7 linked regions of the Homo sapiens genome follow. The protein of the gene in region 6 interacts with the protein of the main gene of each other region in a pairwise test. Each region holds a gene or a part of one and is shown on either strand. Other genes may lie near its edges.

Region 1 (3,500 bases), on a different chromosome or scaffold from region 6:
GGTAAGGATGACAATAAGGGAAAAATAAGCATTCTTTTATCATAATAATAATTAACTTATTGTCAAACAGCTTCTTTATGCCAGTATCTGCACTAATAAACACATCAATATTGTCTCTGCTCCTTACAACAGTCCTACTCTATAGCCTACTCTATAGATAACATTAACCCTAACAGTTGATGAGAAAACTTAAGATCAGATAAGTTAAATGATTTGTTCAGAATCATATAGCTAGAAAAGTGGTAAGAATGACATTCATTCTCAGATCTGCCTAACTTCTAAAGGCACTTTCTACAAAACGACTGGTTTTCAAAGTGTGATTTGAGGACCTGCGGGTCCCTAAAGACCATTCATGGAATTTGTGAAGTCAGAATTACTTCCATAGCAATACTAAGACATTGACTGTCTTCATTTTCATTCTCTTGTTTGAGGGTACAATATAATTTTTCAAGAAGCTATATGCCATTTGATATCACAGTAGATTGAATGGAGAAGCAGAAATGAGAACCCAGCTGTCTTTTGTTAAACCAGATATTAGAGATATATAAAAATGTAAAACAGTACCATTCTTCTCACTTTTTAAAAAATTATTTTAGAAAATATGGGTTTTGGGTAAGATATTCCATGTTAATATGTAATTAGTCTTTTTTTGAATGAATTAACAAATGATTTAAATTTTGTTTTAGTTTTTACACAGTAAATATCAATAGATACTATTCACATAAAAATTATTTTGGCCATGGCTCACACCTGTATTCCCAGCACTTTAGGAGGCCAAGGTGGGTGGATCATGAGGTCAAGAGATCAAGATCATCCTTGCCAACAGGGTGAAACCCTGTCTCTACTAAAAATACAAAAGTTAGTTCAGCATGGTGGCGCGCGACTGTAGTCCCAGCTACTCAGGAGGCTGAGGCAAGAGAATCACTTGAACCTGGGAGGTGGAGGTTGCAGTGAGCTGAGATTGTGCCACTGCACACTAGCCTGGCAACAGAGAGAGACTGCATCTCAAAAAAAAAAAAAATTTTTGAGTCATTAATTATTTTTAAGAGAGCAAAGCATCGTGACACTAAAACGTTTGAGAACCACTGTATTAAACGATGAGGCTTGCTCTATCGTGTTCTTACTCAAATAAATCAATATACTTCAGCTTAATTAAATTTTAAAATATTCACACTTGCAGTCTTATTTGCCACTTTGTTAGAAAAAGATCAGGTTTCTAGAAAATGTTGTGGTCTTCTTACTCCCAGAATGGCCTTTAATATTTCATTTTTAAAAGCATTCTGGTTATTATGTCTGTCTTCATTTTTATTTGGCATAAAATGTCATCCTTTACATTGTCTTCCAGATAATTTGTAATTTCCCTTTTACTTTTCTCTTCAACTCAGAATTAAGATTTTTAAAATTCTATTTATTTCTAATTTTAGTGGATTACAATCACCAAATATAGCCTATTAATTCTCTGTTTAAAAACTTTTAAAGGATTTCATATGGTTCTTTTTCATTTAAGAAAATAAATTCTTTTTACAGAACAGTTGGACAAACTGTGAAAAGCCCAGATAAACTTCGTAAAGTGATCTATCGCAGAAAGAAAGTTCATCATCCCTTTCCAAATCCTTGTTACAGAAAAAAACAGTCCCCTGGAAGTGGGGGCTGTGACATGGCAAATAAAGAAAATGAACTGGCTTGTGCAGGCCACCTGCCTGAAAAATTACACCATGATAGTCGAACATATTTGGTTAACTCCAGTGATTCTGGTTCTTCACAGACAGAAAGCCCATCATCAAAATATAGTGGGTTTTTTTCTGAGGTAAGTCTTTTCTCTAACTCATATCTAGTTTAACTTTGTTCCTGTTATAATCTTGATTTTTTTCTTTGCCATATTCCACTAGCAGAATAATTTGTCACCTATTGAATGTAGACTTATTTGAGTCATAGTAACTCCCTGAGACAATTTTCTAGATTAACCAAATTTGAATTAATAATTTATTCCATTTCTCTAAGATGGGATGAAATGCTTAGCAGGCTGCTAAAACTATCCAGAATGACAAGTTAGCCAGTAGAGATTTAAAGGAAGGGAAAAGGAGAAATCTTGCCTAAAAAAGTGGAGCACTAGGCCGGACACAGTGGCTCACGCCTGGAGCCCGAGGTGGGTGGATCACGAGGTTAGGCGTTTGAGACCAGCCTGGCCAACATGGTGAAACCCTGCCTCTACTAAAAATACAAAAATTAGCCGGGCATGGTGGGGGGCGCCTGTAATCCCAGCTACTCAGAAGGAGGCTGAGACAGGAGAATCGCTTGAACCCGGGAGGCAGAAGTTGCAGTGAGTTGAGATCACACCATTGCACTCCAGCCTGGGCAACAGAGCGACTCCGTCTCAAAAAAATAAAAATAAAAAGGACAACATCTGCAGGCAGATCACCTGAGGTCGGGAGTTCGAGGCCAGCCTGGGCAACATGGTGAAACACCCTGTCTCTACAAAAGTACAAAAATGAGCCGGGCATGATGGTGGGTGCCTGTAATCCCAGCTGCTTGGGAGGCTGAGGCAGAAGAATCACTTGAACCTGGGAGGCAGAGGTTGCAGTGAGCCGCGATCATTCCATTGCACTCCAGCCTGGGCAAGAGAGCAAGACTCCATCTCAAAAAAAAAAAAAAAAGTGGACCACCGAAGCCAGTTATCCAGACACATTTTGCCGGGCTCTCAATATTGCCTGGTTAAAGCATAGTTCAGGCAAACCTGCTGTGGTTTGCTGCTCTTCTGGCTCAAGCAAAACTGGTTAACAGACTCAAAAGCGTTTTTGAGAGTGATAGAAATATTCTAAAACTGGGCCTGGCCAACATGGCGAAACCTCATCTCTACTAGAAATACAAAAATTAGCTAGGCATGGTGGCACACTTTGGGAGGCCAAGGCAGGTGGTCAGGAGTTCAAGACTCGCCTGGCCAACATGGCAAAACCCCATCTTTACCAAAAATACAAAAATTACCCAGGCGTGGTGGTGCACGCCTGTAATGCCAGCTACTTGGGAGGCTGACGCTCAAGAATTGCTTGAACCCGGGAGGCAAAGGTTGCAGTGAGCCAAGATCTTGTCACTGCACTCCAGCCTGGGTTACAGAGTGAGATTCTGTCTCAAAAAAAAAAAAAAAAAAAAAAAAAAAAAAAAAGTAGGCAAAGGACACAATAGACACTTTTCAAAAGAAGACATACATGTAGGTGACAAGCATATGAAAAAATGCTCAGCCTAAATGCTAAACCTAAAATCACTCATCATTAGAGAAATGCAAATCAAAACCACAACAGGATATCATCTCATACCAGTTAGAATGGCTATTATTAAAAAGTCAAAAAATAATAGATTCTGGCAAGGTTGTGGAAAAAGAACACTTATACAATGCTGGTGACAATGTAATTTAGTTTCAGCCATTGTGAAAGCAGTGCGACAATTTTTCAAAGAACTTAAAACAATCTTATTATTGGATATATACCCAAAGGAATATAAAACAT
Region 2 (3,500 bases), on a different chromosome or scaffold from region 6:
GGGATCAAAGAAAAAGGGAGGGAGACCCTATGGATTTGTTTTCAAATAATATCTTCTAAGTAGAGAAATGTAAGAAAGAAGACACAACCAGTGATTCACCAGTGATAGGAACAAGCAGTAGAAATGGGAGGTATTTTAGTTAGAAAGGATTGTGGAGGTTGGGAAATAAGACAGTATTATCTGGCAAAAAGCATTCATGGAGACATTACATTTAAAGAGGAATTAAAACTTCTTTCTCGGAGACCAAATGAACGTATGAACGATTGAATAGATGGTGAAACAGGAAGGAAGCTCATGTCATGGCCTCAGATTTCTTTTCCTTCACTGAGTGACATTCCCAAATGTACTAACCCTCACTGGCCAAGGCTGCACCCTGTTCTGCCCAAGGCTCACCTGCACAGTCACCTTGTAAAATTCCTCTTTCATCTGTCTTCAGCTGTTCTTGATCCACCTTGGAGATCAGACTGTGTCTGCAGAGCTGATACCCTGCTCACGCAGAAAGCAAGGATGTGGGAGAAATGTGTGAGAATTAAATATTCCACAAAACTGATTGCCATACTTTGGCTTTAACTAAAGGATTATTAAAATAGTCAAGTGCAGCTTTAGGAACAACAAAACAATCAGAGCCGAGCTCTTTCTTTCACAAGAACCAAAAAGCATGGTCCACGCCCTATATGGAAGTGACCCTTGAAACCTATACACAAGATGAGACACAGATTGCAAATTACCTTAAGCTATTAGTGATAGAGAAAATGAAATCAGTGCATTTTCATGGGAAGCCACTGGACTGCCCCCTCAAGGGCAGGGACCATTCATTTTGGGGTTAACCACTGTATTGCTATTCTTTCCACAGATTCTGGAACATAATATGTGCTTAAGAACTATTTGCTACATAAACAAATGAAGAAATGAGGCCAGCCTTACCTACTGAGGCCAGGTTCCTAAAGTTCTCCAGCATCACATCTTTGTATAGATTTTTTTGAGCAGGGTCCAGCAATGCCCACTCCTCCTGGGAAAAGTCCACTGCCACTTCCTGGAAGGTTACTGAGTTCTAAAACATCACATACATATTCTGGCTCAGCCAATGACCATTTTTGACAATGTACCAGGAGAATGGTGGGTGAGGCTGACAGGACTGGAGAGGAGACTCAGGGCACTGGAAGCTCAGACATGCATCAGAGGCCTTCTCTTAATTTGCCTTAAAGCTGAGTTCTCAGAACTCTCTTTAAATCCTACTCCCTGGGCCATCTCATTCAGGGTCATGGTCAAAACAGCTTTTCTAAAATATGGTTGGCTTGATCTTTGCACAGTTAGGTTGTGAGGACTCTTTTCGTCTTATTCAGATCCAGTATAGACAGGGCATACTGTAGGAATGCAAGAAATACTTGAGAAATGATAAATAATTTTCCTAGTAAAAGTCTTTCTTTACAGCACTCACTACAGTATGGAATTCATACTCAAAAATATGGAAGAATATCTGGAGAAAGTTAACAAATGTGGGAACAGAAGCCTTTCCCAGGGATTCCCTCTTCCACATGAAGCAGCCTGGGAGCTGCGGAAGATGAAGCCAGCTCAGATTGGGCTGTGAAGCTTCAGGTCAGGGGCAAGAGATGTGTTCTTTTCAGGAATGGCAGTGTGCTTTTGGAAATAGAGAAATTTCTTGTGTACCTGTGACCAGGTTGTCAGCCACCCTGCAGCCATTCTTCCTCCTGTAGGTTTCCTTCCTGGCTGGGCAGAGTCCTAAGCAGGCAGAGCTAGAGGAGAACACAGAAGCCATTAGAGTCTAGGCCTGCTAGATGTTCAACACTAGCAGGCTGGGAAGCTTCTTCTTACTAAAGGGTAACAACATACACATAGAGTGTAGTTACAATTTGCCTCCTTATCCAAGAACACAGTATATCCTCAAATTAGAAATATAGTATGCATTTTTCATTTTTTCTTGGACTTTTTTCTAGCCTGAACCACTAAAAAGGCTTATGACTGCTAACAGCTCAGGAGGAATGAGCCTCTAAAGTGCAAAACTGTCTCTGAATATCATTTACCCGTGACAGAAACCAGGACTCACTGGAGAAATAGCTGAGTCTAGTATAGACTAAGAAATCTTCAAGATGAGTTTGGAATATCTTATATCACACCCTCACGTTCCTCATTGTTAGAATGGGACCAATTTCATAGGGTTGGGCTGAGTTAATATCCCGAAATTACTTAGAACAATAAGGAGTAACTCATAAGGACCATAAAGGTGAGCATATTTGCATTTCATAATAAAAGGGTGACATTCCAGAACAACATTTAGTACACTTAGCTGTATATGTATCAAAATCTAGTGCTGCAAATCTTATAGCAGAGCTAGGACTCTGTCTTCTTAACTCAGTAGCCTACCTTCCAGGCCCTTTTTGCCTGCCCGATTTTACTTTTTAAACTTTTTTGTTGTAAACGAAGACACATACGCATTAATCTAGGCCTAAATAGGGTTAGGATCTTGAGTATCACTGTCTGACACCTTCTACCGTGTCCCACTTAAGGTATTCAGGGGCAATAACATGCACGGAGCTGACATCTCCTATGGTGACAATGACTTCTAGAATGTCTTCTGAAGCATCTGCTTGAGGCTTGTTTTTGAGTTAACTTTTCTTTTTTAGTAAGTAGAAGGAATACATTCTAAAATAACAATAAATAGTATAAAAATATATAAACCAGTAATGTGGTCACTTATTACTATTCATTATTATGTACTGTATATAATCTACTGTACATAACCATATTTACTACTGTTACATGACTGGCAGTGCAGCAGGTTTAAATGACAGACATGTGAGTAATGTGCTTTACAATGTTACACTGGCTATGTCATTAGGTGATTGGAATTTTTTAGCACTATTAAAATGTTATGAGAGCACTGTCACATATGTGGACCATCACTGACCAAAATGTCTTTACACAGTGCATGACTGTACTGCCAACCAAGAATGTTTTACCTGCCAAAAATGGCCTTCAGAAATGAAGGAGAGATAAAAACTTCCTTGGACAAACAAAAGATGAGGGGCTTCATCAGTAATGGAGCTGATTTATAGGAAATAGTAAATTCTTCAGCTTAAAAGAAAGGACACTTAGTAACATGAAACCATATGAAATTATAAAACCCACTGGGGTAAAGGTAATTATATACTCAATCCAGATTACCCTAATACTGTAACAGTGGTATCTAAATAACTTATCTCTAGTGTAAAAGATTAAAAGATAAAAATATTAAAAAGTTATAATAATTTGTTAATATACAATATAGAAAGATGTAAATTGTGACATCAAAAACATAAAATGTGGGAAATGGAAGAGTATAAATTGTTTGTATGCAATCAAAGCTAAGCTGTTAACAGCTTAAAACAGACTATTAAAACTACAGGATGTTTTAAGCTTCATAGTAGCCACAAAGCAAGAACCTATATTATGGAGAAAAGAGAAAGAAATCAAAGCGTATCACTACAGAAAGTCATCAAATC
Region 3 (3,500 bases), on a different chromosome or scaffold from region 6:
GGCATGGTGTGCAAAGTCATTCCTAAGCCGGCCCCTGAAGCAGCTCTAGCACCTTCTTTCGCCACTGCCCTCGTGCATCCCCCCAACTCAGTCCTTCCCCAGCACTTGGCCATAGGAGAAAATGCTCCACCTGTCCTCTCCATACTCTTCCCCCTGCATGAAGTGTCTTTCTTTTCCACCTAACTGACTCCTGTTCATTTGTAAAGATTCCTCCTTATCCACTTCAGAAAGTCCTAGTCGGGGTGGAATCTGCATTCTGGGCTAAATGTCTTGCTCAAGGCAATCACCAAACCTGCATATCCTACACCGTAACATTTCACCCACTGCATCCTCAATATTCATTTTCCTACCTGTATCTCTCAATAGAGTGTGCATTCATTAAAGATAAGCACCATGCCTTGCTAAATACAGTTCTAAATAAAAATTGATAAATGGATAAATGAATACTCAAGAAAATCCCGTACTTGTCTCCGTAATTTCTCTAGAAATGACATCTGCTTTTTTCCTTAATAGCCTCTTATTTCATCCCAGATGTCTTCCCCAAACACAGTAACTCCTTCCAAATTCTCCCTTAATTTTTTTGCTCTTTATCACATCCATTCAGCACTTTATCTCATGTTCTGCTCTATCTTATTTATTATTTCATGCTTGTAACTTGTCTCCTCATCTGTACAATAAACTCTGTGTGGAAGAGTTATGATATCTTGAGATGCCTGGCCGGAAATGGACAGATTCTTGTATTAACAAGTTTGAAAACGACTGAAAAGTCAAAGTAAACTAAAAGATGCTTTTCTTTTTATTTTAGTATGAAACAACTGACAAACACCTTTCTCCTGATGGCCAGTATGTCCCCAGGATTATGTTTGTTGGTAAGCGGAAGTGACAGTGAGATAACTCGGAAACACATACTAGTGCTGCCATCCTCCTTCTCTCCTCCCCACTGTCCCTTGCCACGTTGCCATGGCCAATGTCATCACTAAGCTCTAGCAAGGAGCATGACATTCCTTTAAGTTCCGCAACATATTTTCTTTAGAAAATGTGAGCTTTTACCTATTTCCACACAACACTTTCTTTTCTCACATGCTAATTGTAACTTTTCATCTTCTGCTATAATACTTCTGAGAACAAAGCACCCTATTCACTATTTAAACATATTGATAAATTTCCTGAATACGAGAGGCCTGCAAATATTTATTTTTTAATCCAGCAAACTTTCACTTTGTGTGTTAGATTTTTCTGACATTTTTTATCATTATTTTTAAGAAAGTTAGGAATAAGGCTGGGTGGCTCACGCCTGTAATCCTAGCACTTTGGGAGGCCAAGGCCGGCAGATCACTTGAGGTCAGGAGCTCCAAACCAGCCTGGCCAACAAGGTGAAACCCCATCTCTACTAAAAAATACAAAAAAAAAATTAGCCAGGCGTGGTTGCAGGAGCCTGTAATCCCAGCTACCTGGGAGGCTGAGGCACAAGAATTGCTTGAACCCAAGAGGCAGAGGTTGCAGTGAGCCGAGATGGCACCACTGCACTCCAGCCTGGGCAACAGAGCGAGATTCTGTCTCAAAAAAAAAAAAGGAATATGAGGTGGGAAAAAGAAATGAAAGGAGCCACATGCTCCTTCCTGCCACTGGTACTTTTCATATGCTTTCCCCACTTCCTTCTCTGTCCCCCAATTTCACATCATTAACTCCCCAATCATCATTATTCATTGACCGAGTCAAATCCCTACTATGTGCTCTTGTAGTCATACTTTCCTCAGGTATAATTTTGCAGTTTGGGGGTGGTTATGTAATAAATATTTCCCACATTGGACTATAAGCCCCTATGGCAGGGACTGTACCTATTTCTGCTCACCATGATATTCCCAACGTGACCCTGCAGTAGGCTCTCCATCAATATGTGTTTAATTATTGAATGAATGTACTGAGTTTGGCTTTGTTCAAAGTCATACTGATTTAAGGACAATCCATAATGAAATCCATCACTTACAACAATTCATGCTAATCATATGATTCACCTGTGTAATTCATTAAAAGTTTACACTGAATGTACAAAGCAGGGAAAAGAAAAACAAGAAATAGAAAAAAAGGAAGAAGGCTGAACTAAAGCACTAATTTTATAGGTTTAGTTTTGTCAGAATTTAGGACATTTGGAATCCTAACATTAAAAGGGAATTTATAGATGTCTGTTCATACCTTGTACAGGAATTCTTTGTACAGCATCCCTGTGGAAGGGCATTTTAACCCACATTCAATTCCTTCAGTCCTAAGAACCAGCTCCAAGGCAGCTTGCTCTTCTAGCTCCGTAGTAGCCACCCTGACTACATGTTTGAATCACCTGGAGGATTTTAAAGATCAAGTTGCCCAGGCCACACCTCAAACCAATTAAATCAGAATCTCTGGGGGTGGGAGGCAGGCATCCATAGTGTTTACAGCTCTCCAGATGATTCCAATGTGCAGCCAGGTGAGCTGCTAGTTGGGTATTTAAAAAGCCCTTCTTAGGTTAATTTCTTACAAAGATTAGACCGTGTCTTTGTATCCTCTGCACCAAACAGAAGTATAGTTGGTCTTAAATCTGGTGAATAAATGTACATCTGCTTCTTGTAATTTATGTGTCTGGCCTTAGTCCAACATTCTGAAATGACAGATTGCCCACTCCAGTACCAGCGACAGACTTTGCAAACATGCAGATGGTTCTCACATGTCTTCCTTGTCTCATTTTCAGGGCACGTGTCCTAGGTTCTTTCGATTACGTCTCTCAAGGCAAGGTTTCCAGATCTCTCTGTATCCTCACGCTTCCCTTTTGGATGCACCTTAATTTTAAAATACCTCTTTTTCTCATTAATTAGATCACTTCAAGTTAAATACAAAACATGGCAAGATGGATTTAAATTTAGAGGGATATAAGTATACATAAGAGAAGACCAATCTCTACTTTTAAAAATGCAGTTAATTAACAATAAAGTAAAATATAGTGAAGGTACTATATGCTTATTTGAACTTTGCTGTTGTTAAGGACTTGCATTCCTCTATTAACTTTTTTTAAAAAACTCGTTTTGAAAACTAGCATTGGATGTGGGTTTCCAATGATCTAGAAACATGTAAACTACAACATAATCGTTTCAAGAATTTAAAATAATTTTGCAGTAGAGAATGTTAATGTTTTCACCAAAAAAAAAAAAAACACCATGTCACCCCTAAATATATATTATTCTGTTTTCAGGTTGCCATAGATAGAACAGAAGGGTTCATAACCTTTTCCACAAATAGCACTGCACAGCTGTTGATGTTTCCAGCCCTGCATTTGCTACTAACTGCCAGGGGCTGGGTAGTAGAGTGGATGGATCAGAGCTCCTGTGAGTGCAGACACACTCCATTCCCTCACAGGACATGAATACATGAACTTCAGCTCCCCGGGGCAATAAATACAGGTTGTTTGAAAACAAACCATTCCATTCCCTTTTGCTTCATTTATCTTTGCAGACCCATCTCTGACAGTTAGA
Region 4 (3,500 bases), on a different chromosome or scaffold from region 6:
ATAGGATTTTATAAAGGCCCAAGACTTAAGTAACTTAGAAAACACTGTCGCTGCCTTAAAGAGTGAGTTTCAGAAGACACTTAATGACAAGACAGAAAACCAGAAGTCACTGGAGGAGAATCTGGCGACAGCCAAGCACGATCTACTCAGGGTTCAGGAGCAGCTGCACATGGCTGAAAAGGTCAGAAGACCATGTTTAAGGGATTTGTCTGTTAATGCATGATTAATGCACACAGTATAGAGGAATACATGTGGCTAAGATAAACGTTGGACAACTGCAAATTCAGATTATTTTTTCTCAAGGTATTAGCCAATATGTTCTAAAGATTAATCATTTCCGGGCACTGATATTCTTCCATCTTTGGTACTAAAATATCTGTGATAATAAGACATCTCCTCTCCCTCTATGGTGTAGTGAAATGCTCCTCTGTAGGTGGCTTGAATCCTGCCCTACATCCCACCATGTTGCTCTTCTGCTCCTTCTTCCCACAGCCTGCAGAGGGATGAGGGACTGTTTTTTTTAAGGACTTCTATACTTTTGTCATAATTTATATAAAATATGTAGAGAGCTAGATTCTTCACTTTGGGGATTAGACTCTTAAGAATATGGGAGTTGAGGCCGGGTGCAGTGGCTTGTGCCTGTAATCCCAGCACTTTGGGAGGCCAAGATGGCAGGATTGCTTGAGCCCAGGAGTTCAAGACCAGCCTGGCCAACATAGCAAGACCCCCATCTCTATAAAAAAATTAAAAATTTTTTCATATAAAAAATGGGAAAAAAGAATATGGGAGCTAAAATTTAACTAAATTAAAAATCATTTTGCTAAAATACACTACTATGGGACTTGGGAAAAAAGTGTGCTTATTTTACAGGAAAATTAGTTTAATATTTCAAATAGATTTATCATATCCAGGGCTTGAGTTATTTACCAACACTGTACTTGGGAAAATGTTACTATTTTATGGCTTCTCATTTGAAAGAATATATTTTTAAAGTTTGGATAGTCTTAGTTTTATATAAATGTGTCCTTTAAGGAAATTAGAAAATCATTAGCAAAATACTAGTAAAATTCAAGCAAAAAAAACTACATATTTTTATCGCATTTGTTATCTCTTTCCTTAACTATTTTTTTAGTAATGGGCTGACATTTTTTACTAAGCAGGAATTAGAAAAGAAATTTCAGCAAACAGCAGCTTATCGAAACATGAAAGAGATTCTTACCAAGAAGAATGACCAAATCAAAGATCTGAGGAAAAGACTGGCACAGTAAGCCACACTGATCCCGCCTTTGGATTTCTCTCTCTGGATTGATGTTTGTTCTCTGTTAAATCTAAGCTTGTTCCAGAGAGGTCAAGCCGGTGGTAGTTGCTGGATCATTTAGTCCAGAAGCCTTCATTTGAGGAAAGTGGAGGAGCTCTGGCCTGACCTTATCTATAATGCCCACCAGGGCTTCTTTTTAGGTTCATCTAGGCCTTTAGACTCACACAGGCCTACAGTAAGCTGCTCTTGGCAATGGATTCACTTAGCAGGATGTCAGACAGGAAACACAGCAAGCTCGCAGGGCAGCATTAGGTAGTTCTCTTCTCCTTGGTGGTATACTCTAAGCAGTCCAAGAACTGGTCTTACTGTTCCCCTAAATGACAGTTTAAGTTGGAGAGAATGAGATTCATGCAGATGGGTGTCATAGCCAGCTTGGCTTAGAAGTCCGTGTTCTACATAGGATTAGTATCTCTCTTAGCAGTCACATGATACCCAGTTAAGGGTATGTCCAGTTAAAAGAACTCATCGCACAGGGGGAAACCTAAAGTGGTGGCTCCCACCATGTATTTATAGTTCATTCATAGTCCTCCAGGTCCAGATGTGGTCATCAGATGTTTTGCCTGGAAACTGAGTTGACATTTTACCTTTATCAGAGTTCCAGGGGAGCAGAGCTAGAAAGGGAATTCAAGGTGAGATTTGTCCTTAGAGAAGTAGATTTGCTAGCCCTTTACTCATATAGTCGTATCAACTGTTCTTGTCAACATGATGATTGAGGTAATTATATGAAGTTATCACAGGTCTAAATGCCAAATATACAGACTTGGAGCCTTAGCAGTGATCTGGCCTATCCTCCTACCTGATGTAAAAATCCCCTCTGAGTCACCATCAAAACAAAGTTGAATGTGTCCAACTTCTACCGTAACAGTAATTTGAAGTGAGAAATATAGTGCCACTGCTTCAAGTAAACTTATTTGGTAATAACAACAACAAAAGGTATCCTGACATTGTGTTCTTAATTTATATCTCCAGATATGAACCTGAAGATTAAAACTGAAGATTTCCTCTGGAAGCTACCACATGCAAACATACAAGCAGTCTCACCTCAGGCATGTATTTTGAAAAGCATTTTGTCATATCCCCTCTCCTTATTTTTCTAATATTTAGACTTTGAATATTTAGAACTAGAGTTCCTATTTTCAGCTAGTTGAAAACAGAGAAAACCTAGTGATTCTGTCTGGTCATCCCACACACCTCTCTACTGAGTGCTCCAGAGTCTTAGCTCACATGCACTGAGAATTCTTTACAGCAAAGAAGAGATTTTTAGAGTGGGAAGAAGAGGCTTATCCTTCTGCATTAGTATAAAGAGTCTGTATTTTTAATAAATGTTAAATAAGCTAACAATGTTTGTACTTATGCATTCCCCATGGGTAAAAATAAATAATAGCATTGTTAAAGATAGTTATTACCAAAAAAAGAGAGTTATTACAAATAAATATGTCTCTTTATTTTTAAAAATGAAATCTTAATTCATTTACTCTATTTGATGATAAACTATAAATTCATTGAAAATGTGAATTCTATTATGGGTAGCCTTTTTACCAATTATAAGGAAAATTTACAGCAGTGAACATGAACATTCACTTAGCTTCCTCAGTCTCTCCATCTTAAAGATCATTTATCAGAGGAGGTTCAGCATTTTTTGCAGCATAACTTTTCATGAGTCTGTATTACTAATGGATAAGTCAAATCCATCCTGCACTTCTACAGTTTAGAAAGTATCTGGACTCAGAATAAATGTAATATTTATACTTGTTTCCAGAATGTTATTTTACATTTTATGTTCAATAAGAACACTTTTTAAAAGACGTATATTCAACATAAAATCAGCTATCAGACTTCAGATTAGACTTTATTTATGTGGGTCTATAATAATTGTATTTTCAAGAGGTTTTCACTATATTTGTATTGGCCTGGTTTTCTCAGACGATTTTGGACAAATCATTAGAAACTGGGCATCATATCCACAGTTATGTAAGGCAGTGATATACTATAAGGATAAACAAAGTCAAGTCCATAAAGCAATAATCCCTCAGAAGGAAAGTCCTTACTTTTCACATATTAATATTTAGTAATTTTTCCTGCTTCTAAAAGTGAGAGTATCACACCCTAAATGAACACTGTCTACTAAGAGACATCATTCCATTTCCACAAATGAAGATTTTATTCCAAGAAACGAGTTTAC
Region 5 (3,027 bases), on a different chromosome or scaffold from region 6:
AGTTAATTGGAGGCCTTGATAAAGCACATGTGCTCCAGATGGTGAGATAAAACTTATGAAATTCAGGGGCCTATAAACATCAGTAAAATTTTGGGGGAGAAGTATCCAGTGATCTGCGGCATGCTAAGACATCCCCTCTAAAGTAAGAGACAAGTTATTTACAACCTGTATGTTCCACTATGAAGAAGAAAGCACAATGCCTGACAGGCCTCTTTGGGTTCTAAAGGCAGCATATTTCACACCTAGGAATGCTGCTCTCCTTTATATACTGGGTGACATCATATCTGACAGTTTTGAGTGAGGGCCAATGCAGAAAAGGGCTCTATGATAGGTCCATATTGTGCTGAAAGCTGGCCTGCTACGTGGGTCATCTAACCTTGCAGACCCCATATTAGAGTTATTGGTGGAGGAGAAATTAGAGCAAAACCTCTACGTACGTACTCTTCATTTTTCTCTGCCCATTTTATTGAATAACTCAATGTATAAAACCACATAACACATTACTGGATAAAATGTTTTATTTTTCAAATAAATTATAATAGATTTTCTCTCTCTCAATTATTTCTGTAATAATTTTATCTTTTTATTAAAACTAAATATATATTAAATACATTTCACCTTTTCTCAAATTACAGACTATGGTATAACTGTAATTGTCATTAGCAACCAAAGTCTATTTCCAGAAATTTAAACTTGATATAGAGAAAAATTCCACGTATCAAGCGCTTCGTACCTGACTTGGTGCTGAGGTTGAACTGTTGTATTAATGTGTTCCTGGCTCTAGAGGCCACTCCTAGCTTTTAAAGCAAAGTGGAACCCTTAGGGTCAGGCTTGGCTGCCAGAGAAATTTCTGGAGGGGGATGACTTGGGTTTTGCTTTACACAGGCCAGTTCTTTCCTGGGCTAGGGTGGAATCTCTGGGAACAGAGGACTGAGATACATACTGTGTTTAGGCATTTGTTTGGAGCAGCAGGGAGGACCCTATTTTTAATCTCACATTTCTATCAGTAATTGCTTCCCTATTAGAACAAAGAGAAAATGGGCAGCTCTGGGTCCTTAATGATACCAATATTTTGCACACAGTTATTTATTTCTCAGTTATACTAGGTCCAGTGAAAAAGAAGTGCTGAGTCTACTATGAACACAAGTAGTAAAAGTGACTGTGGCAATTTTGATAGTGGCAGACTGGGATTTTACTCTTGGAAAGGTCTTCCAGGTTTGGTGTATTCTAAGCAGCCAGTAGAGTGCTAGAATTTAGACATACTGTGTTTGGATCTACCCTCTTACTTACTCCATTGTCTTACTTTAATTTATATATTCACAAATAGGGTGAGGGAAAAATAATCTCTATTGAAAACATCTCCATAAAACCTAAGATCATACCCAAACTTTCCATTAGGGTGGCCATTTATGAACTCAAAATTAAGTAACTAAAATAAATAATGGGTAATTAATGAAAGTAGTTTTGTTTTTTTGAGATGGAGTCTTGCTCTGTTGCTCAGGCTGGAGTGCAACGGCGTGATCTTGGCTCACTGCAATCTCCGCCTCCCGGGTTCAAGCAATTCTCCTGCCTCAGTCTCCCAAGTAGCTGGGATTACAGGCACGTGCCACCATGCCCGGCTAATTTTTTTTTGTATTTTTAGCAGAGATGGGGTTTCACCATCTTGGCCAGGCTGGTTTTGAACCCCTGACCTCAAGTGATCTGCCTGCCTTGGCCTCCCAAAGTGCTAGGATTACAGGTATGAGCCACCACCCGGCCTTTTTTTTTTTTAACTACCTTTTTACTACTTTTTTTTCAGATTGTAAAAAGATATGGCCTCAGTGATTTCCTCTTAGCATAACGCTGATCTCGCAGATGTGGGTTAAATCCCATTTAGAGGGAAGGTTTGGAATCCTACATAAAAGTATAACATGCATTAAAACAGAAAATTCTTAAATACAAAAAATTCAAGTGACCATATCTTAACTAATATTAATGTAACAAAAATAAAATTACAATAAACAACTGAGCACAAAATGCAATTCAATTTTTGTTACTACAATGAAATGGCTGATACTCAAATTCTAACTGCTACAACATGGACTTCTGAATGAGGTCCATGTATGTACATGTGCTTCTAAGTAGAGTGTTGCTTTGGCAAATGGTTTTTATTCTAACCCACAGTATTTATGACTCTCAATTTCAGTTGTTTTCGGTAAGGAATTATGACAAAAGCTAAATTTATGAGACTTGGATCAATTAGGAAATAACAAGGAATTATTCTTTTGCATATTCAGTAAGAAGCTATTCTAAAGCTGCTGTTTTAATTACCCGTTTCTCTAAATAAAAGCCTTTGGACAATAATCTACTCCCCTAATTAAAATATTCTAATCCTTTCTCTCCAATTCCTATTTCAACTGGAAGAGCCACAGTTATTAATTTCTAATGGTTTCTTTTGTATTTTGTATTTTTTTAAAATGTCAGCAATACTACTTTACATATAAAATACAAAGCAGTATTAAAAGTATAGAGCTAGTACTGCCATTCAGATTTTAAACATATACCTTTATGACGAAATAGTCATGAAGCAAAGTGTTCAGATCTGTCAGAGCAACCAACCATTTAAAAATCAGATCTACGATCCTTTTTGTCTTTTTAAAGCTATTCTGGTTTACATCAAAGTGCTCCTAGTGAGGAGGAATGATGTACTGTACTGAAAACTGAGACTTCATGAGGGGTCTTCTTAAATTGGCTGTGAACAATTTTAAAAGCCCACAGATCTTCACTATGTGTTATTCTCAGAGTCAATACCACAGGAAGCCTTGTAAAAAGATCCTTTGGTACTACTGATAGCTAAAGCACCTTGGATTGAATCCAAGATGGATATGCATTACAAATGAATTGTGCTTTGTAGTAAAATGCATTTAAAGTAAAATTCAATGTACTTACCATAAAGCACATGTAAGTAAAGGTACTCCTTTGAAGCCAAATATCTGGAGAAGTGTCCAATTCCTTCTACTATAGCTTAATGTGACTAATTTGACATCA
Region 6 (3,500 bases):
ATAAACACTATGATGAACATCCTTGTACATACATTTTTGTGTACTTCCCCAATTATGCTTGTCTTGCTAGAATAAACTTCGAGTAGTTGAAGTATTGGGTCAGATAAATTTTTTTTTGTATTTTGTTGAGTATACTCTTTCTGAAGGATACGCCAGTACCCTGAGTACCCGATTTTATATAACCTTCCCAGTATTAGAATTAACACATTTTGAAACATCTTTTTGCCTATTGAACAGTTTATTATTTTCATTTATATATATTCTTGGGCATGTTTTCATATGTTTATTGACTTTATAAATTTCCTCTTTGGAGACTGATTCATATATTAACTGTTGCCCATTTCCTTATTTGCAGGTTAGTTTTCTTCTTACTGATTTTCAAGAACTACATTCGACTGTGTCAAATGTCTGTGATATTATAGATACTCCCAAGAGTGTTATTTGTCTCTTTTGGGTGGTGCCTTTTGCTACACAGAAATTGCTGTGTTTCATACAGTCTAATCTGTCAATCATTTCTTTATGACATTCAGTTTCTTGCCTTGTTAGAAAAACTTCTCCCATCCAAAGCTTAGCTGTATTTCTTTTAAGACTTGTCTGATTTTATTTTTTACATTGAAATGATTGTGCTTTTTGGATTTTACTTTGATGAGGAAAAGCACTTTGTAATCAAGATTCATGCCATTCTACATTTATTTTTGTTTTTATTTATTGATTTTTGCTGTTTTATACTGATTTTACTAGTGTCTCTCTTGCTTCTTCTAGGGGGTCTTTAAAGCTGTGTTCTTGGACATAGCCCACCCTTTCTTTGGTTTATTTTTTTAAATTTGTTGTGTGTGGTTTTCTGAGATTGGTTCCATCCTTGGGTAAAGCTTTTGGGCCTCAGTTTACTTGTGGCCTGTCATCCTCATGAGAGATACAATCATTTTTCTGCCTTTACACCTTACATCTCTTTCTTTTTTTGTATATTGAGGTTAGTGGATTGCCTGCTGTGATCTCATGTCTTGTCCCAAGCTTGCTTCCAGCAAAAATACTTCCCAGTTTCTTAGGTGACCTCAGATGGTGCCTTCTCCACCAGAGAATTCAGTTTACACAATCCTTTTTCTTTTTTTGAGACCAAGTCTCGCTCTGTTGCCCAGGCTGGAGTGCAGTGGCATGATCTCGGCTCACCACAACCTCCGCCTCCTGGGTTCAAGCGATTCTCCTGCCTCAGCCTCCCAAGTAGTTGGGAATAGAGGCACGTGCCACCATGCTCAGCTAATTTTTGTATTTTTAGTAGAGATGGGGTTTCACTGTGTTGGCCAGGCTGATCTCGAACTCCTGACCTCGTGATCGGCCCACCTCAGCCTCCCAGAGTGCTGGGATTACAGGCGTGAGCCACCGCGCCTGGCCAAGTTTACGCAGTTCTATAGTAGAAAACATACAAAGCTAACAGTGGCAGTTGTACATGGTTAGTAAGGAGATTGTCCCTATATCACATCTCCCAGGGTACTGAGTTCTGGTATATAATGTGTTTTCTAAATCAGTTATGTTTTTAAAAAATCATACCTTGTAAATGACTCGTGATTTCTCATACCCAGAACACGGTTGTTTTTAACAGGCCTTTTTAACGATTGTAGAATCACCTGTGTTCTTTGTAACAAACTCAAATAAGATAGAAGCACATGAATTAATTCCCTTCTTTTCTTGCCTCTAATTCAGAGCTCAAAGATGACCAGCCACAGTTACTTATCTTTCCAGACTTTTTTGTGCTTGTACAAATAGTTTTCTTATTCTTTTAAACAAAAGCAGTATCGTATTTTACAGGTTACAGAATTCTCTTCGTTTTACTGTGTCTTGCGGATGTGTCCCTTGGACCTGTCTATATACATAAGTCGTGCTTTCCTTCAAGTTCTCCTCTTCGTTAGCTTAGGAGAGCCAAGAAATAAAGACTTTCTTACAAATGACTGTTTGAGTTTGGCTGATGTGTCCTACAGAAACCTCACCATCTCTCTCTGTGTTCTCCCTACTCTCTTACGGGTCCTTACCTACTACCATGGCTTGGATTATTTTTGTGTATTCTCATGGCTTCCAACTGTTTTACATCTGCAGTGGTTAATTCTCTTGTCATCTTTACCTGAAGATCATAAAAATGCCTTTCTCCCTCTTACCCACCCTTTCTGTGTTACTCAATATTGTATTTTAACTCCCAAGCCTACAGTTTACCCTTGAACAACACACCAACACGGGGATTGGGGCTGTCTGCTGGGTGGCACCTGTGCAATGGTGACTGGGTTCTGGCTGTCACATGTGCAACAGTGTGTGTGCTGCAGCTGTCACCAGTGCAACAGTGGCTGTGTTCCAACTGTTCCCTGAAGTTTTAGCCAAGGTGATAGTCCGTTTTGTGTCACGTTTTGACCTGATTTATTTTTGCGATGATTTGGGATTGTGATTGGATACCATCCTTATGAATACTGTTTTCTTCTTTAAGGAAAGGGGGCTGTATACAGCTTTGATCCAGTAGGGTCTTACCAGAGAGACTCCTTCAAGGCTGGAGGCTCAGCAAGTGCCATGCTACAGCCCCTGCTTGACAACCAGGTAATGATACTGTGTCCAGGTAATGATACTATGTCCAACTTGTCATGGTGTTCAGTTGAAGTGCCTTCCTCCAAGTTCTCCTCTTCATTAGCTTAGGAGAGCCAAGATATAAAGACTTTCTTATAAATTACTGTTTGAGTTTGGCAGACGTGTCCTACAGAAACCTCATGGTCTCTCTCTGTGTTCTGCCTACTCTCTTGTGGGTCCTTACCTACTCCCATGGTTTTGATTGTTTTCCTGTATTCTCATGGCTTCCAACTCTTTTATGTCTGTAGTGGCTAATTCTCTTGCTGTCTTTACCTGAAGATCATAAAAATGCCTTTTTCCCTCTTACCCCCCCTTTCTGTGTTACCCAATACTGTACTTGAACTCCCAAGCATACAGTTGAGCCTTGAACAACACGGGGATTGGGGCGCCAGTTCCCCGAGCACTGGAAAATCCACATATAACTTTCGACTCCAAGAAAACTTACAAATAAGCCTACTGTTGACTGGAAGCCTTGCCAATAATGTAAACTGTGGATTATCACGTATTTTACATATGTATTATGTGCTGTATTCTTATGATAAATAAACTACAGGAAAGAGAATGTTATTAAGAAAATTATAGGAAGAGAAAATACATTTACAATACTGTATTTGTTGATACTGTAAGTTTACATCATCTGTTTACAAGGAGAATCATCTGTCTGGAGTGGTGGACAACCACAGCTGCAGACCTCAATCTACAGTACATATCAAGCAATTCAGCTTTTTCTTGTGATGTCATAACTTTCCCTGCTTCTTGGGGAGCAGTTCCAGCATCACTAATAGTGCTTTGTTTGGGCCACTTGTTATTTAAGGTTTATAATAATCGCACTAAACACAATGAAAAACAAAGGAGAACATTGAGAGATCACTTTAACTTTTTATAATCAGTTTATGTGT
Region 7 (3,500 bases), on a different chromosome or scaffold from region 6:
CACGATCTCCCTGTCTCTAGGAGGAGGGTGCAGATTGCAGATTTATGGAGGCCCAAGGCCCCTTATTCCTACTCCCCACCCCCAGAGGTTATAGGGAATCTTCATTTCCTTCCCCCCTAAGGGTTCCATTAGGACTTGTGTTTTCCTGACCACAGATTCACACCTGAAGAGGCTTGGAAGATGCAAAATCATCACCTCCAAACAGCTGAGACACACATGACTTGGCTTTAACCGTGACTGCCCAATGCCAGAGCACTGGACTCAGGTTTAACATGGGCAGCCCCCATGTCACCCTCCACATCAGCTCTCCTCCTACATTGATGGTCGGCCTGGAAGCCAGTCATGTTTGACCTTGCACTCACGCCCTGGAGGTTCTGAAGTAGGCAACTTTCTAGTTACACAGGTCCTGCACCCAAGCTTTTAGCTCAGGCCAAGTAAAGACAATAAGTTCAGGTGGGCACACGGTCTCAGTCATTTTGTCTTCTTACTTGCAGTCTAGGTGAATGGACCAGTTAAGTGCTACCTGGAGGTAAGGCTGTATCCAGACTGACATGCCCTGGACCAATGCAGCTAAGTGGATACATGAATTTGGCACCCAAGATACTATTTAGCGTGCCATGGTAGTCATTCAATGTTAGTTTCATTCCCTTCTCCAAATCTAGCTGGATTCCTGCAGGTGACTTGCATTTCCCTCTTGCCCCTACAGCTGGCTTCTCCTCTATGTCACTTCCTCAAACTAGCAAATGGGGAGCAGAGGCAGAGTAAAGGGGGGAAATTCATCACTTGACGTTGCCTCTTGCTGGGGAGGAAGATGTAGAAACTCTTGGACTAATGGAGGTTTGGGAATTGTCTGAAGAGTAAATGATCTATACTACCAACCATCGCTGCTGCTGCACTTGTCTCTGACACATTCTCAGCATTCACCTGTAACTAAAAGGCCAAAGGGAACTGGGATATTGAGGCCTGGTGCATGGTGTTCAGAGGCTGGGCAAAGTGGTGATCCAGTTGATCAGGGCTCCTCATGCAGGAACCTGGTGGAAGAGAGAGACGGGCAGTAGGTCCCAGAGTTATACTTCGGAGCACATGTTCAAGAGGGAAATGACGACCGGCCCCCACGGTCCTGGGATGCAGGTGTGAGGACTGAGAATGCTGGACGGGGTGTGGTCGAGGCATGGTCAGGGTGGCCCCGAGCTGTGCCCCACCCCAGGGATGCAGGAAGGGTGCTCTGTGCAGGACCCCGAACTTGGGCTCTGCCCACTTTCAGTGTCTGTTGCATGTCACGCTGGCATCTTCGGCATGTCCACAGTTTGTCACCCCCCATTTGGAGAAGCTGCAGCGGAAGATGGTTTCCTCTGTGCCCTTGCAGGCAACGTCATCCATCCAGATCCTCCCAGTGCCTGTGGAGACAGGGAAACACAGCTATAAGCGGATACACAGGAGGGCGAGAAGGAGAAGAGAGAGCATAACTGTGCCTGCCCTTGACTTGGCTCTGCTGTACACTCAAACCTAGGGGCTTCCAGCTGCCCTCTCCACGCCCCCCGAAGACCTCATACTTATTTTCTGGGATTAGTTTCTTGAGGGCAGAATCACAATAATTGTTGGTGATGATGGTAGTAGCTACAAATATCAGCTATGTGTCAGAAGCCGGACAACCTCTCCTTTTTAGTGGCAGCGTCAGGACTGGCTATTAAAGTCTTAAACTCTGTCATTCACTCTTGAAGTACGTGGGTAAAATCCCTTTACAAAGAATGTCAAGGGAACATTTAAACCACTTCCCTGCTGTTTGGCTCTAACAGATGAACTAAGTGGCTTGAACATATTTTTGTTACGTAGACATTTTCAGCCCCTGTTGTCACGGGATTGCCATGCAGTGAATCCGGGGATGGAGGAGGGAGGAGAGGCCCCTTCCGCCACCTCCTTGGATGTTGTTTCTTCTCCAGAGCCTCTTCCTGGCCTGGATAGCTGTAGCTCTTACACAATAAGCCCTTTGAGGCAGAGAATGATTTGCAGATTAAACGTCTCCTGGAAGACACATCGGTTTACAAATTACCCAGGAAAAGGCTGCAAGCCCCAGGGCTCTGTGGGATTAGTCACACCCAAAGCAAATAAAGAAGACTAACAAATAAAGAACAGTTCCAAGGTGACCCAGCCCAAATACGTATATAGGATCTTGAAACTCTAGCTGGTGTTTCACCAGGGGGTTCTTGTTCACATCCAGTCACGGGAGGACCAATACAATGGGAACACGGTCATCAAGGGAGGAGCAGTGCATATCTGCAGTGACGTCAACACTGCGGTGGCGGGGGATCATTCCCGGAGGAATTTGCCAGCAAACTCTCTCTGCTCCTTGCACCACCAGGCAGAGGCTAGAACCCTGTCAGCTCTAGGTACCAATCATTGTTTTAGCTTTAGAACTGATAGCTGATTACTCAAGGTGTGCAGTTTGAAGACCAGGGCTGTCAGCATCACCAGAGAGCTTGTTAGAAAAGCAGACACACAAAATCTTCCTTCAGCTTAATCTCTCCCACTCTAGGTTCCCACGCCGCCCCTAATCCCGCTCGAAGCAGCCCTGAGAAACATCACCCATTATCTCTCCATACCATCCCGCCAAAACTTTTGCTGCCCCAACACTTCAACACTATTTTATGTTATTTTTCTTACTAATATAAGAAGACAGGAATGTCAGGTCTCTGACCCCAAGCTAAGCCATCATATCCCCTGTGACCTGCAAACATGTATGTCCAGCTGGCCTGAAGTAACTGAAGAATCACAAAAGAAGTAAAAATGGCCGGTTCCTGCCTTAACTGATGACATTACCTTGTGAAATTCCTTCTCCTGGCTCAAAAGCTCCCCCACTGAGCACCTTATGTCCCCACCCCTCCCCACCAGAGAACAACCCCCTTTAACTGTAATTTTCCACTACCTACCCAAATCCTATAAAACGGCCCCACCCCTAAATCCCTGCGCTGACTCTCTTTTCTGACTCAACCCGCCTGCACCCAGGTGAAATAAATAGCCTTGTTGCTCACCCAAAAAAAGAAAAAAAAGAAAGAAAGGCAGACTCTTGGCCAGGTGCCATGGCTCACGCCTGTAATCTCAGCACTTTGGGAGGCTGAGGAGGGCAGATCGTTGAGATCAGGAGTTCAAGACCAGCCTGGTCAACATGGCAAAACCCCGTCTCTACTAAAAACCCCGTCTCTACCCCGTCTCTACCAAAAACACAAAAATTGGCTGGGCGTGGTGGTGCACGCCTGTAATCTCAGCTACGCAGGAGGCTGAGGCAGGAGAATCGCTTGAACCCGTGAGGCGGAGGTTACAGCGAGCCGAGATCATGCCAGCTTGGGTGACAGAGCAAGACTCAGTCTCAAAAACAAAACAAAACAGCAAAAAACCAAATTATTGAGGCCTCTGTGTGCTCAGTACCATTCTGATGAACAGAAAGACAAAACAACAGATGCAAAAGATTTCTGCCTTATAGAGCTAACGTTTGAGCTTCTATG

Evidence for each region.
Region 1: the proteins of PSMB1 (region 6) and KATNBL1 interact in binary tests that used the Homo sapiens proteins (3 or more experiments, as listed by UniProt).
Region 2: the proteins of PSMB1 (region 6) and ZNF177 interact in binary tests that used the Homo sapiens proteins (3 or more experiments, as listed by UniProt).
Region 3: the proteins of PSMB1 (region 6) and AGR2 interact in binary tests that used the Homo sapiens proteins (3 or more experiments, as listed by UniProt).
Region 4: the proteins of PSMB1 (region 6) and LZTFL1 interact in binary tests that used the Homo sapiens proteins (3 or more experiments, as listed by UniProt).
Region 5: the proteins of PSMB1 (region 6) and THAP6 interact in binary tests that used the Homo sapiens proteins (3 or more experiments, as listed by UniProt).
Region 7: the proteins of PSMB1 (region 6) and SCARA5 interact in binary tests that used the Homo sapiens proteins (3 or more experiments, as listed by UniProt).

What each region holds. Positions count from the first base shown.
Region 1 is NC_000015.10:34,151,097-34,154,596, reverse strand, and holds part of KATNBL1 (KATNB1-like protein 1), read left to right. Parts: intron 1-1,527; coding exon 1,528-1,807; intron 1,808-3,500.
Region 2 is NC_000019.10:9,376,513-9,380,012, reverse strand, and holds part of ZNF177 (zinc finger protein 177), read right to left. Parts: intron 1,755-3,500; 5' UTR 1,702-1,754; coding exon 1,669-1,701; intron 1,052-1,668; coding exon 925-1,051; intron 487-924; coding exon 394-486; intron 1-393. Other genes in the region: ZNF559-ZNF177 (zinc finger protein 177), read right to left, coding at 394-486, 925-1,051, 1,669-1,701. UniProt on the Homo sapiens protein: May be involved in transcriptional regulation.
Region 3 is NC_000007.14:16,795,000-16,798,499, reverse strand, and holds part of AGR2 (anterior gradient protein 2 homolog precursor), read left to right. Parts: intron 1-805; coding exon 806-869; intron 870-3,480; coding exon 3,481-3,500. UniProt on the Homo sapiens protein: Required for MUC2 post-transcriptional synthesis and secretion. May play a role in the production of mucus by intestinal cells. Proto-oncogene that may play a role in cell migration, cell differentiation and cell growth. Promotes cell adhesion.
Region 4 is NC_000003.12:45,825,120-45,828,619, reverse strand, and holds part of LZTFL1 (leucine zipper transcription factor-like protein 1), read left to right. Parts: intron 1-4; coding exon 5-181; intron 182-1,160; coding exon 1,161-1,264; intron 1,265-2,287; coding exon 2,288-2,306; 3' UTR 2,307-3,500. UniProt on the Homo sapiens protein: Regulates ciliary localization of the BBSome complex. Together with the BBSome complex, controls SMO ciliary trafficking and contributes to the sonic hedgehog (SHH) pathway regulation. May play a role in neurite outgrowth. May have tumor suppressor function.
Region 5 is NC_000004.12:75,527,500-75,530,526, reverse strand, and holds the end of THAP6 (THAP domain-containing protein 6), read right to left. Parts: 3' UTR 501-3,027; downstream 1-500.
Region 6 is NC_000006.12:170,536,308-170,539,807, reverse strand, and holds part of PSMB1 (proteasome subunit beta type-1), read left to right. Parts: intron 1-2,467; coding exon 2,468-2,574; intron 2,575-3,500. UniProt on the Homo sapiens protein: Non-catalytic component of the 20S core proteasome complex involved in the proteolytic degradation of most intracellular proteins. This complex plays numerous essential roles within the cell by associating with different regulatory particles.
Region 7 is NC_000008.11:27,870,674-27,874,173, forward strand, and holds part of SCARA5 (scavenger receptor class A member 5), read right to left. Parts: intron 1,398-3,500; coding exon 1,261-1,397; 3' UTR 1-1,260. UniProt on the Homo sapiens protein: Ferritin receptor that mediates non-transferrin-dependent delivery of iron. Mediates cellular uptake of ferritin-bound iron by stimulating ferritin endocytosis from the cell surface with consequent iron delivery within the cell.